Regions from separate parts of the Homo sapiens genome. Here regions 1, 3 and 4 are each linked to region 2. Evidence: fine-mapped expression QTL. A gene starts in region 2. Each other region holds a variant in brackets. All regions are shown on one strand. Distances are between the middles of the regions.

Region 1 (2,500 bases), 290 kb after region 2:
AAGCTATGAGAGGTATGCAAAATTTACTTGGCTCAGAGAGACCTGGGACTTCAGTCAGGCCCCTACTCTCATCCCTCACCCCCACCTCTGCATCCCGCCCATGCCCTGGGGGCAATTGTTTAAAGGCATTTTGTTCCTGACTAGCTGGCCTCACCCATTATCTTCATGTTCCTAGAATTTGTGATACAAAGAACAATGTATAACCAATTAATAGCTTATGTTACTTTAATGTAAATTCTTGTTAAACAACTTAGGAACTGCCTCTTCTTTTTTTCCCTTTAAAAACCCATTTGTAGGTGCTGCTAATTAGAATGTATATTCAGGGCAACTTGAATCCATGTTCCTGGGTGGCCATCCTCAAGCTTTGGGCTCAAATGAACTCTATATTTAATCATACTTTCTGAATATTATTTAAGGTTGACAAGAATAAGGGAGATAAATATATACAGAACTAACCAAAGGAGTTAAAAGTGTTTGTTCTGGGCTGCTGTCTTTTGTCTCTGAATATGAGTTGGCTTTTTAAATTACGTGCGTTACTACCTCTGATAAAAAATAAGAAATTCTTATTAAGGAGTTGTCCTGATTCCCCTGGAGGGACACAGGGGGAAGCACTGGTCTGACATCAGGGTTCATGCCTGAGCCTTGCCCTGCTGTCTGCTGCTCTTTGCCAGCTGTCACCATCCCATCTGAATGGGGCTGAGTGACTCAGAGCTGCCTGGCCAGGGTTTTATGGGAACTGGACATAGGATTTTAGATACCTAAATTGGGAGGAACCACTCTGGGGCAGCCTCCTGTTTCAAGCCATCATTTGGTAGTGCCAGTATCATAAATGAGTGGCCGTATATAGCGCAGGGGTTTAAGTGGTGAATGAGCTCTACTGTTAGACTACCTAGCTTCATAAAACCCAGGCTCTCCCTCTAATTAACTAGGACCTGGGCAAGATATTTAATTTCTCTGTGCCTCAGTTTGTCATGGATAAATGGGACTTACAGTGCCTCCTTATAGGACTGTAGCGAGCTTAATTCAACTAACACATATAAAAACACTTATCACAGTGGCAGGCACATATAAGCCTAATGAATGTTAGCTTTTATTCTCATTTTCACAGATGACGTAAGTGAGGTAAGTGAGGTTCAGAGAGGGAAAGTAGCATGCACAATGTCAAACAGCCAACTGGAGACAGAGCTAGGCCTAGTGCCTGGGACTTTTCTGTCTCTCTGCAATACTCTTTCTCCTTGTACCACCCCAAGTTGCTTAGATATACATAAAGCATCTCTGGAGAGATACACAGAAAAATGAACAGTAGTGGTTACCTGTGGGCAGATAGAGACCAGAAGAATTGTG[G/A]AAGAGTAGAAGAGAAGACATCTTTTCACTGGAATTTAAAATTTTCAAGCCACATGACTGTATTATTAACACCAAATAAGGAGACAAATAGATGGATTAATTAAATAAATGGGATTGACTGGGTACAGTGGTCCACACCTGTAATCCTAGCACTTTGAGAGGCCAAGACAGGAGGATCACTTGAGCTTAGGAGCTCAAGACCAGCCTGAGAAACATAGTGAGATCTCATCTTTTTTTTTTTTTTTTTTTTTTTTCAAAAAAGGTAAATAAATGGGACTAATAATGCCTTTCTCATGGTGGAGAACAAATGAGATAACAGAAGTGAAAAGACTTCTACACTAAGTGACAACCAGATGTGAAGGGTTATGACTAGTAATTATGGTGCTTTTTAGTAAAAGCAAACTTTGCTCTGGGTTTATGGAACAAACTGTAAGAAAGGACATAAATTTCAGGCTGTTCATTAGCCAAGTTCTCCTCTTTGAGATGAAGTAGGTTTCCTTGGCCACAGGTGAAGCCATCTTGTACTGCAATGGAAATTTCCATCTTGGCATCCACAAATGAGAGCTTCCCTTCCCCCACACATACTGGCTCTCCTGAGCCCAACACATTGCATCCAGGCCGTCAGTTGGAGAACTCTTCTGGAAAACATGATTAAGGCTGCACAAACTGGGGGGTTTATTGGGTATGACAGTGAGGGCCACGGTTTGTTTTTCAAGGGAGGGAGCTAAGTCCCAGAAATAGCTGAGCTCGAGATGGCAGGCGGCTGGCAAAGGCAGGAGGCTCCAGGGCAACGCTCCCAGGCCATGTTGACTTAGGACCGGCTGCCTGAGCATTGTAAACAATTGCAGAAATGATTTCCTACCCTGGCAGAAGTCTTGTTTGGACAAGGGATCCCCCCTCCTTCTTTAAAAGGCAGTTTTATCATTTGTTTGCAAAAATGTTCAATCCCCTCTTTCTTTTCTTGTTCCCTCTGTGGCTCTGGTCTCCCCCAGAGCCAGATGAAAAATCTTTGTGTTTCTTTAATGTTAACCAAACCCCCACTCCTTTTTTAAACTGTTCCAGGTCTGCTGGACAAATACTTCCCAGCAACAGGACTAACAAGCGTCTGTTAAGGATTTTGTTAGGCTGTAGTCTTTAGCTGAAGTGACTTAATTTT
Region 2 (2,763 bases):
CCTTCTCTCCATCCTCTGCACAGAGGCAGCCTTCCCTCCTCTTATCCCTGCCATGGGGTTTGGGAGGGGGAGCCTCAAACTCTGACAGGGAGGAGTCGGAGTCCCCAGCTAAAATTCTCTGGGTCTAGAAACAGGTGTAAAGCGATTCTGGGGATGTGATTTGGGAGAAAAGCACACTTTCCACACAGAGGCGGTCAGGAAAGGAGCGGGGAGGGGAGAGTGGGGCACAGGCAGCGCCTCCCGTCTATGCGCCTGTGTGCAAAGTGGCACAATGCCCCCCTTCCTATTGGCAGTGCAGCCCCTGGCCAGCAACCACTCGCACCTGGGCTGGGGGCCTTTGTGTAGGGCACACCTGTGCAGCCACACCTACTTGTAGAGCCTCATAGACTCAGCTGTGGACAAAAGCCTCACGCCCCAAACAGGGAAATGGGATCTCAAGGGGAAGAAGCTGGGGAGGCCTCACACCCTGCCCCCATTTCCTCCTATGTGGGGGAGGGGAGCAGCACGAACTCCTGAAGACTTGGGAGCGTCAGCAGCTTCTGCGGAAGGGGTGGGGCTGAGGGTGGAGAGAGGAAGGGAAGGAAGAAAAGGGGAGCCTTCCTGGCCAGGGTAACCGGCACTAAGAGGCCTCACTCCAAGCCCCCGAGGAGCCTGTGGTGGGGCTGGAGACCCGGCTCAGGCCCCTCCACCACCCTTAAAGTCCTCAGAAGGTGGGAACTGAACTGGCACAGGATGGGAACCGGCTGTGCGCTGGCCACTTGATTTTGCCAGCTGCCCTGTAATTCAGCTGGTGAGGAAACTGAGGCACAGACTGAGGTAGAATGATTCGCCAGTCACTCAGCAAGTCAGCAGACGGGGAGGACTGAATCCCAGCCTGAGAGCACCGAAGCTTGTATCCCTGCAATACCGAGCCCCAAGCCTGCGAGCCCCGGTGCCCATCTCTGAGTTAGGCCGTCTTGGAAGGGTTCCCTTCCTCCTACAAGATGGTGTGTGAGGAGCCTTCAATACGACCCGGGGTGTAAAGTGTCCAACTCTAGTAGGGGCCTGATGGCATCCCCGCCGAGTCCCAGGAGAGAGAGAGAAGACCCCTTCCTGGAGTCCAGGGCTCCCGGGAAGAAACACTGGCATTTGTCCCTTTGCTTCGGCTTCTGGAGGCAGAGACTCTGAGCCCAGGGAGAGCCTTCTGCAGCCCCATTTCCTCAAAAATCCAACCTGCCCAGGTGGCGGGTCATGAGCTGTGCTCAGGAAGCTGGAATCTGACCCTGGTGGCGTCGGGCCCAGTCTCCATGGCAGCCGAGCATTTATTACCCGGGCCTCCACCCAGCTTGGCAGACTTTAGACTTGAGGCTGGAGGAAAGGGAACTGAACGCGGTTCTGGGAGCAGCAAGCCCACGGGTAGCAGCCGAGGCCCCAGAATGGTGAGTGTGAGGGTCTGTGTCGGCCTGGCCAGGGCTGGGGGCGTGAACCTCAGGTGGAGCCCTCCCCTGACTGTTTTCCTTTCTCTGCTGCAGGCCAAGTTTCTTTCCCAAGACCAAATTAATGGTAGGTTGGGTTTGTTCTTTGATTAGCAACTCAGCAAAATATGGGTCTCATTAGGCAATTTGCTCTGCTCATGTTTTCTTGGTGGGAAGGAAGGTGGCTGTGGGAGAGCTGGGCCCACCCAGGGCCAAGAGCTGCGGGGAGGCTGCTGTTGGCGGGGTGGGGGTTGGGGGTAAGCCTCCAAAATAGACATGTGGCTTTATACTTGTCAGTGTGACTTACAAGCCAGGGCGCTAAGACAGAACTTACTAGGTTTCCCTCCAGAACCTGACCAGTTGGATTTGGGGACTGAGGGGACTGGGGATGGAGAGAGAGACCATTAAAGGTATGGCTGGCAGCAGGGAAAGAGGAGGGGCTTTGTAATTGAGACAGAACAGAGGCCAGGTCTGCACTCTCTGGCAGGATGCGTCTACTCTCTGCGCCTCAGTCTCCCTATCTGTAAAATGGAGGGTCCACTGAGCCCCCTTTGCCCTGGCATCAAGCCTGGTTTGGGCGTGAGCACTTTATTCCCTGGGTCCCCTACTCTGCCAGCCCTCGACCAGGCTTCAGTTTCACACCGTGCAGGGTTCTATTTCCAGAAGGCCAAGAGCAAAGAGTTGCGTTACAAAGAACTTGGGGGCCCAGACCTGAGCCAGGGGAGCCTCATGGCTGCAGCCCCCCTGCACCTGGCAGGAGAGGCCCAGGAGGCACAGCCAGCTGCTGCTTGAGGTTGTGACCCTGAAACCTGTCCCAACAGTGGACGTCAATGGGCCTGAGAGTCCCCCGAGGCATCCCATTCCTCCAGGTCTTTGCTGAAACATCGCCTTCTCAGTGAGTCCTTCGCTGACCACTGGAGATAAAATTACAGGCACCTTGGGCCCTTGTGATCCAGGGTAGGGTCCTGAGAGCCCAGCCAAGTGGGGTTAGGGTTACCTGGGCAGGAGTTCCAGAGTTCTGGGTATTCTGAGCTTGGTCCAGAGGGGCAGGAATTGTGAGCTCCAGGTGGGCACCTCCACGTAGAACCCTGGAACTCTTTATCCCAAGAGGAGGGCCAGGGCAGGAGCAGGGACTTTTAAAACACAGGGCCCGGGGCAGTGCCCTCTTGTCCAGGTCTAACGGTGATAATGAATGGTGGACTGAGGGCTGGAGTCCAGCCTTCAGCCTCAGCATCCTCCCACCCATGCCTGGTTTTGAGGCTCACTGACCCTCCCTCCTGGGATAGCCAAAGCTCCCAGAAGGGAAGAA
Region 3 (2,500 bases), 80 kb before region 2:
TGAGATTGCACCATTGCAATCCAGCCTGGGTGACAAGAGCAAAACTCCATCTCAAAAAAAAGAATGAATCAAGAAAATAAGACACTACATCAGTGATGCCAACTATATGTTTTGCAAACAATTCAGTTTAATTAAAATTCACTTTTGTTATTTTTTTGTTATGTTTTTATTGTCATGATTATGTAAAGTTCAATAAACATTTATTTATTGTCAAAAAATAACACTTGCAACAGCATCAGAAAATACCAATAAATAGTAATAAATCTAATGAAAAATGCACAAGACTTCTACACTGAAAACTACAAAACACTCCTGAGATAAGTAAATCTAAATAAATGGGAAAATATTCCATGTTCATGATCCAGAAGACTCTATAATGTTAAGATGTCGATTCTCCCTCAAAATGATCTATAGATTCGATATAAACCAAATGAAAATCCTAGCAGGTTGTGTGGTATATGTGTGTGTGTGTGTGTGTGTGTGAGTCCAAGAGGTCGAGGCTACAATGAGCCATGATCAGGCCACTGCACTCTTGCCTGAGCAACAGTGCGAGAACCTCTCTCTAAAATGGGAAGGAGAGAAAGAAAGAACTGACAGGCCAATTCAAAAAAGAATATGGAAATGCAAACAACCAAGATAATCTTCAAGAAAAATAAAGTTAGAGGACAAACTACAGTAATTAAAATAAGTGCTGGCACGGGGACAGAATAATATTATCAACAGACCAAAAAAAAAAAAAACTCCAGAAATAGATTCACACATACAGAATCCCTTGATTTCTGACAAAGGCTCCAGTGAAATTCAGGTAGAAAACATGGTCTTTTTAATAAATAGTTATGGAGCAACAAGATAATCTATATGGAAAATAATTAACCTTGATTCCTACCTCACAGTACATACAAAAATTAGAGACACAGTATAGACCTATAGTGTGAAAAGCTTCTCAAAATAAAAAAAAAGCCATAGACTATTCTTAATGAATTTAGTGTTGATCACAATTTCTGGAACAGAATACCAAAAAAAAAAAAAAGCATTAACCGTTAAAGAAAAAGAAAGTATTTATTGGATTTCATTAAAACCAGAACTTCCATTCATCAAAAAACATTATAAACAAAGCGATTAAGTGGCCAGGTGCAGTGGCTCACACCTGTAATCCCAGCACTGCGGGGGGG[C/GC]TAAGAAGAGGACTGTTTGAACCTAAGAGTTCAAGACCAGCCTGCGCGACACAGCAAGATCCTGTCTCTACTCAATTTAAGAAAAAAAAAAAAAGACTGAACAAGTATACTTCACAAAAGATATCCAAATGGCCCATAAGCATATGAAAAGATGCTCAAGATAATTAGTTAACAGGGAAATGCAAATTAAAACCAGTTTACCAATATACACACCCAGCAGAATAGCTAAATTTAACAAGACTGACAGGGCAATAATAAGTGTTGAGCAAGATGTGGCAACTGACATTCTCATTGCTGGTGGAAACTGCAAGTAGGAATGTAATTTGGTTGTTGAACTTTGGGGAAACTATTTGGCAATATCTGTTAGTTAAACATACACCTACCTGATGACCCAGCAATTCCACTCCTTGATATATACCAGATAACTAAATGCAAATGTCCACCAAACAACATACACAAATGTTCACTGCAGTTTTATTCATAACAGTCAAACACTGGAAACAACCAAAATATTAATTAATAGGAAATGGATAAACTGTAGTATATTTATGCAACGGAATACCACACATCATTAAAAAAAGAAACTACTGATACATGCAAGTACATGGATGAATCTCAAAGACACTGTGTTAAGCGAAAAAAGCCAAACAAAAAGAGTACATACTACATAATTCTGCTTATAGGAAGTTCAAGTACAGGCAAAACTAATCTGTGGTGACAGAAGCTGTATTAGTCCATTTTCACGCTGCTGATAAAGGCATACCCGAAACTGGGCAACTTACAAAAGAAAGAGGTTTACTGGACTTACAGTTCCACATGGGTGGGGAGGCTTCACAATCATGGCAGAAGGCAAGGAGCAGCAAGTCACATCTTACATGGATGGCAGCAGGCAAAGTGAGCTTGTGCAGGGAATCTCCCCCTTACAATCATCAGATCCCGTGACACTTACTATCAAGAGAACAGCACGGGAAAGACCTGCTTCCATGATTCAGTTGCCTCCCACCAGGTCCCTCCCACAACACGTGGGAATTCAAGATAAGATTTGGGTGGGACATAGCCAAACCCTATCAGAAGTCAAAATAATCATTACCTCTGGCAAGGAAAGGGAGGAAACTGAGAAGGGGCACAAGGGAAACTTTTAGAGTGATAAAGTGTTCTACACATTGATCTAGAGAGTGACTAGATGGATGTAAACATATTAAAAATTCATTGTACAGTATTGTACACAAGATTCATGTACTTTACTAGATATGATATACCTCCACTAAAAAAACAGATATAATTAAAAACAAAAATAGGCACAAATGACTTCAAAGAAAAATAGTTTA
Region 4 (2,742 bases), 110 kb after region 2:
TAGAGGGAAATTTGGCAACATCTACAAAAAATATTTAGATGCACTTTCTATTTCTAGGAATTATAAAACTACTGGCTATATTTAGACAAGTGCATAGTGATATATATCACAGAATATTCTCTACAGCAATGTTTTCAACAGCAAGAAACTACCCAAATGTTGACCAACAGGGGAATATTTAATAACACAGAATCCAACGAATCTATTGCCTACTAAGTAGCTGCTAAAAAAGAATGAGGCAAATATGTTTGTTTGTAGGTGCAGCAGCTACCCCAGTAAAAATATAAAAAGAACTGAAAGCAACACCTGTGACTGAAATAAGGGTGAAAGAGGGACTTCCTTTTCATTGCAAACCCTTTTGTAACTTTTGAGTTTTGTACATCAATGTATTATCTATTTAAAAATTTAAAAACAATCAAAAAATTAAGTACAATTGACCCTTGAACAACACAGATTTTAACTGTGTGGGTCCATTTATACACAGATTTTCTTCCACCTCTGTCACCTCTTAGACAGCAAGATGAAAATCCTCCTATTACTCCTCCCCTTTAGCCTACTTAATGCAAACATAACAAGTATGAAAACCTTTATAATGATCCACTTAATAGTAAATATATTTTCTTTCCTTATGATTTTCTTAGTAACAGTTTCTTTTCTCTAGCTTACTTTGCTGTAAGAATACAGTACACAATACATACATATACAAAATACGTGTTAATCAACTGTTTATGTTATTGGTAAGGCTTCTGGTAAACAATAGGTTATAGTAAAGTTTTGGAGGAGTCAAAAGTTACATGTGAATTTTTGACTGTGTGTGTTGCAAAGGTGGCATCCCAATCCCCTTGTTGTTCAAGGGTCAACTATACAATAATTCCATGTTAGCAGAAAAGTATACAATTAGACCAGTGGAACAGAGTAAGATCTAGAATAATATTCAAAGGAAGTTTTGGGAAAAAAATAAAATTAGAGCCCTATACTCATGTAAACAAAAATAAAATTCAGAATTGATTAAAAAACCCCACAAATGTCAGAAGTGGAAAATGTTATTTACTCCTCTAGGAGGTAGCATAGGTCATCTGGAATCAGACAAAATCCAACAGCTACTGGTTTAATATATGAAAAGCAATCAGTGTTAGACACCATATTAATAGAATAATGGGAAAAACTATACAATCATCTCATCAGATGTTGAAAAAGCATTTAATAAATTACAACATGCAGGCTGGGCACGGTGGCTCACACCTGTAATCCCAGCACTTTGGGAGGCCGAGGCAGGTAGATCACCTGAGCTCAGGAGTTCGACACCAGCCTGGCCAATGTGGGGAAACCCCGCATTTAATAAAAATACAAAAATTAGATGGGCGTGGTGGTGCGTGCCTGTAGTCCCAGCTACTTGGGAGGCTGAGGCAGAAGAATCACTTGAACTGAGGAGGCAGAGGTTGCAGTGAACTGAGATCATGCCATTGCA[C/T]TCCAGCCTGGGTGACAAGAGTAAAACTCCGTCTCAAAAATAAATAAATAAATTAATTAATTAATTACAACATGCTTTTATAATTAAAAAACTCAACAGGAAGGGCATCTATGAAAGAATCCACAGCTAACATTATACTTAATGGTGAAAGACAAGATGCTTTTCTTAAGGAACAAGAAAAGAATATCTACACTTCAAATTCAATAGCATATGAAAAGGGTTTTACATAATGATCAAGTGGGGTTTATTCCTGGAATGCAAGGATGGTTCAGTGTATGAAATTCAATATAATACACCACATTAACAGAATGAAAAAAACTACATGATCATCTGAATGGATGTAGAAAAGACATTTGACAAGTTTCAACAACATTTCATGATAAAAAACACTCAACTAGGAATGGAAGGAAACTATCTCAACATAATGAAGACCATATATGAAAAACCCACCACTAACATCACATTCAATGGTGAATGACTGAAAGCTTTTCCTCTAAGATCAGGAACAAGGCAATTCTTGCCACTTCTACTCAACATAGTACTAGAAGTACTAGCCAGAGCAATTACACACACACAAAAAAATGAAAGGCATTCAAATTTAAAAAGAAGTAAAATTAATCTCTGTTCACAGATGACATGACGTATGTAGAAAACTCTAAAAGTTTCATGCAAAAGAAAAAAAATATTAGAACTAAGAAACAAACAGGAAAACTGCAGGATACAAAATCGACACACAAAAAATGAGTCCTGTTTCCATACACAAACAATGAACACACTGAAAAGGAACTTAACAATTCAATTTTCAGTAGCATCAAGAAGGATAAAATACTTAGGAATAAACTTGACCAAAGAGGCAAAAGACATGTACACTGAAAACTACAAAACATTTCTGAAAGAAATTAAAAATATAAAAAAAAGGATAATGCTCATGAATCAAAAACAATATTGTTTAAATGTCCATAATACTCAAAGCAATCTACAGATTTAATGTAATCTTTATCAAAATCTCAATGGTATCTTTTGCAAAAATAGTAAAAAAAAAAAAAATCCTAAAGTTGATATAAAATCTCAAGGGACTCCCAAAAGCAAAAACAATCTTGAAAAAGAACAAAACTGCAAGCCTCACACTTCCTTATTTCAAAACGTATTACAAAGCTACAGTAATCAAAACAGTGTGGTCTTGACATAAAGACATACAGACCAATGGAACAGAATAGTGAGCCCAGAAACAAACCCTCACACATACATAGCCAAATGATCTCTGACAAGGCTGT

Alleles and levels. Alleles are on the strand shown, and positions count from the first base shown. SD is a standard deviation of normalised expression in the study named. Not every link is listed here.
As copies of G replace A in region 1, the expression in monocytes of the gene that starts at base 1,331 in region 2 goes up (large effect, 1.1 SD a copy in CEDAR).
In carriers of allele T in region 4, the expression in cerebellar hemisphere of the gene that starts at base 1,331 in region 2 tends to be higher than with C alone (large effect, 0.82 SD a copy in GTEx).

The links. PIP is the estimated chance that this variant, and not a neighbour inherited with it, causes the effect. A credible set is the group of variants that fine-mapping cannot tell apart.
Region 1: its variant is the best candidate, but not a certain one, in a credible set for the expression of CALML4 in monocytes (CEDAR, PIP 0.59).
Region 3: its variant is the best candidate, but not a certain one, in a credible set for the expression of CALML4 in lung (TOPMed, PIP 0.51).
Region 4: its variant is the best candidate, but not a certain one, in a credible set for the expression of CALML4 in cerebellar hemisphere (GTEx, PIP 0.52).

Annotation. Positions count from the first base shown.
Region 1 is chr15:67,915,419-67,917,918 of GRCh38, reverse strand. No RefSeq gene overlaps it. Among named protein-coding and RNA genes, the nearest start is that of RNU6-1, 77 kb to the right of the region's middle. The variant G/A (reference allele first, on the strand shown) is at 1,345.
Region 2 is chr15:68,203,900-68,206,662 of GRCh38, reverse strand. CALML4 (calmodulin like 4) reads left to right here and starts at 1,331. Exons shown (of 5, transcript NM_033429.3): 1 at 1,331-1,418; 2 at 1,512-1,542. The coding sequence starts at 1,416. RefSeq lists an enhancer at 338-632.
Region 3 is chr15:68,284,458-68,286,957 of GRCh38, reverse strand. All of the region lies in intron 1 of FEM1B (fem-1 homolog B), which reads right to left. Among named protein-coding and RNA genes, the nearest start is that of FEM1B, 8.0 kb to the right of the region's middle. RefSeq lists an enhancer at 969-1,470. The variant C/GC (reference allele first, on the strand shown) is at 1,173.
Region 4 is chr15:68,096,211-68,098,952 of GRCh38, reverse strand. The region is part of intron 2 of PIAS1 (protein inhibitor of activated STAT 1); the gene reads right to left. Among named protein-coding and RNA genes, the nearest start is that of PIAS1, 43 kb to the right of the region's middle. The variant C/T (reference allele first, on the strand shown) is at 1,469.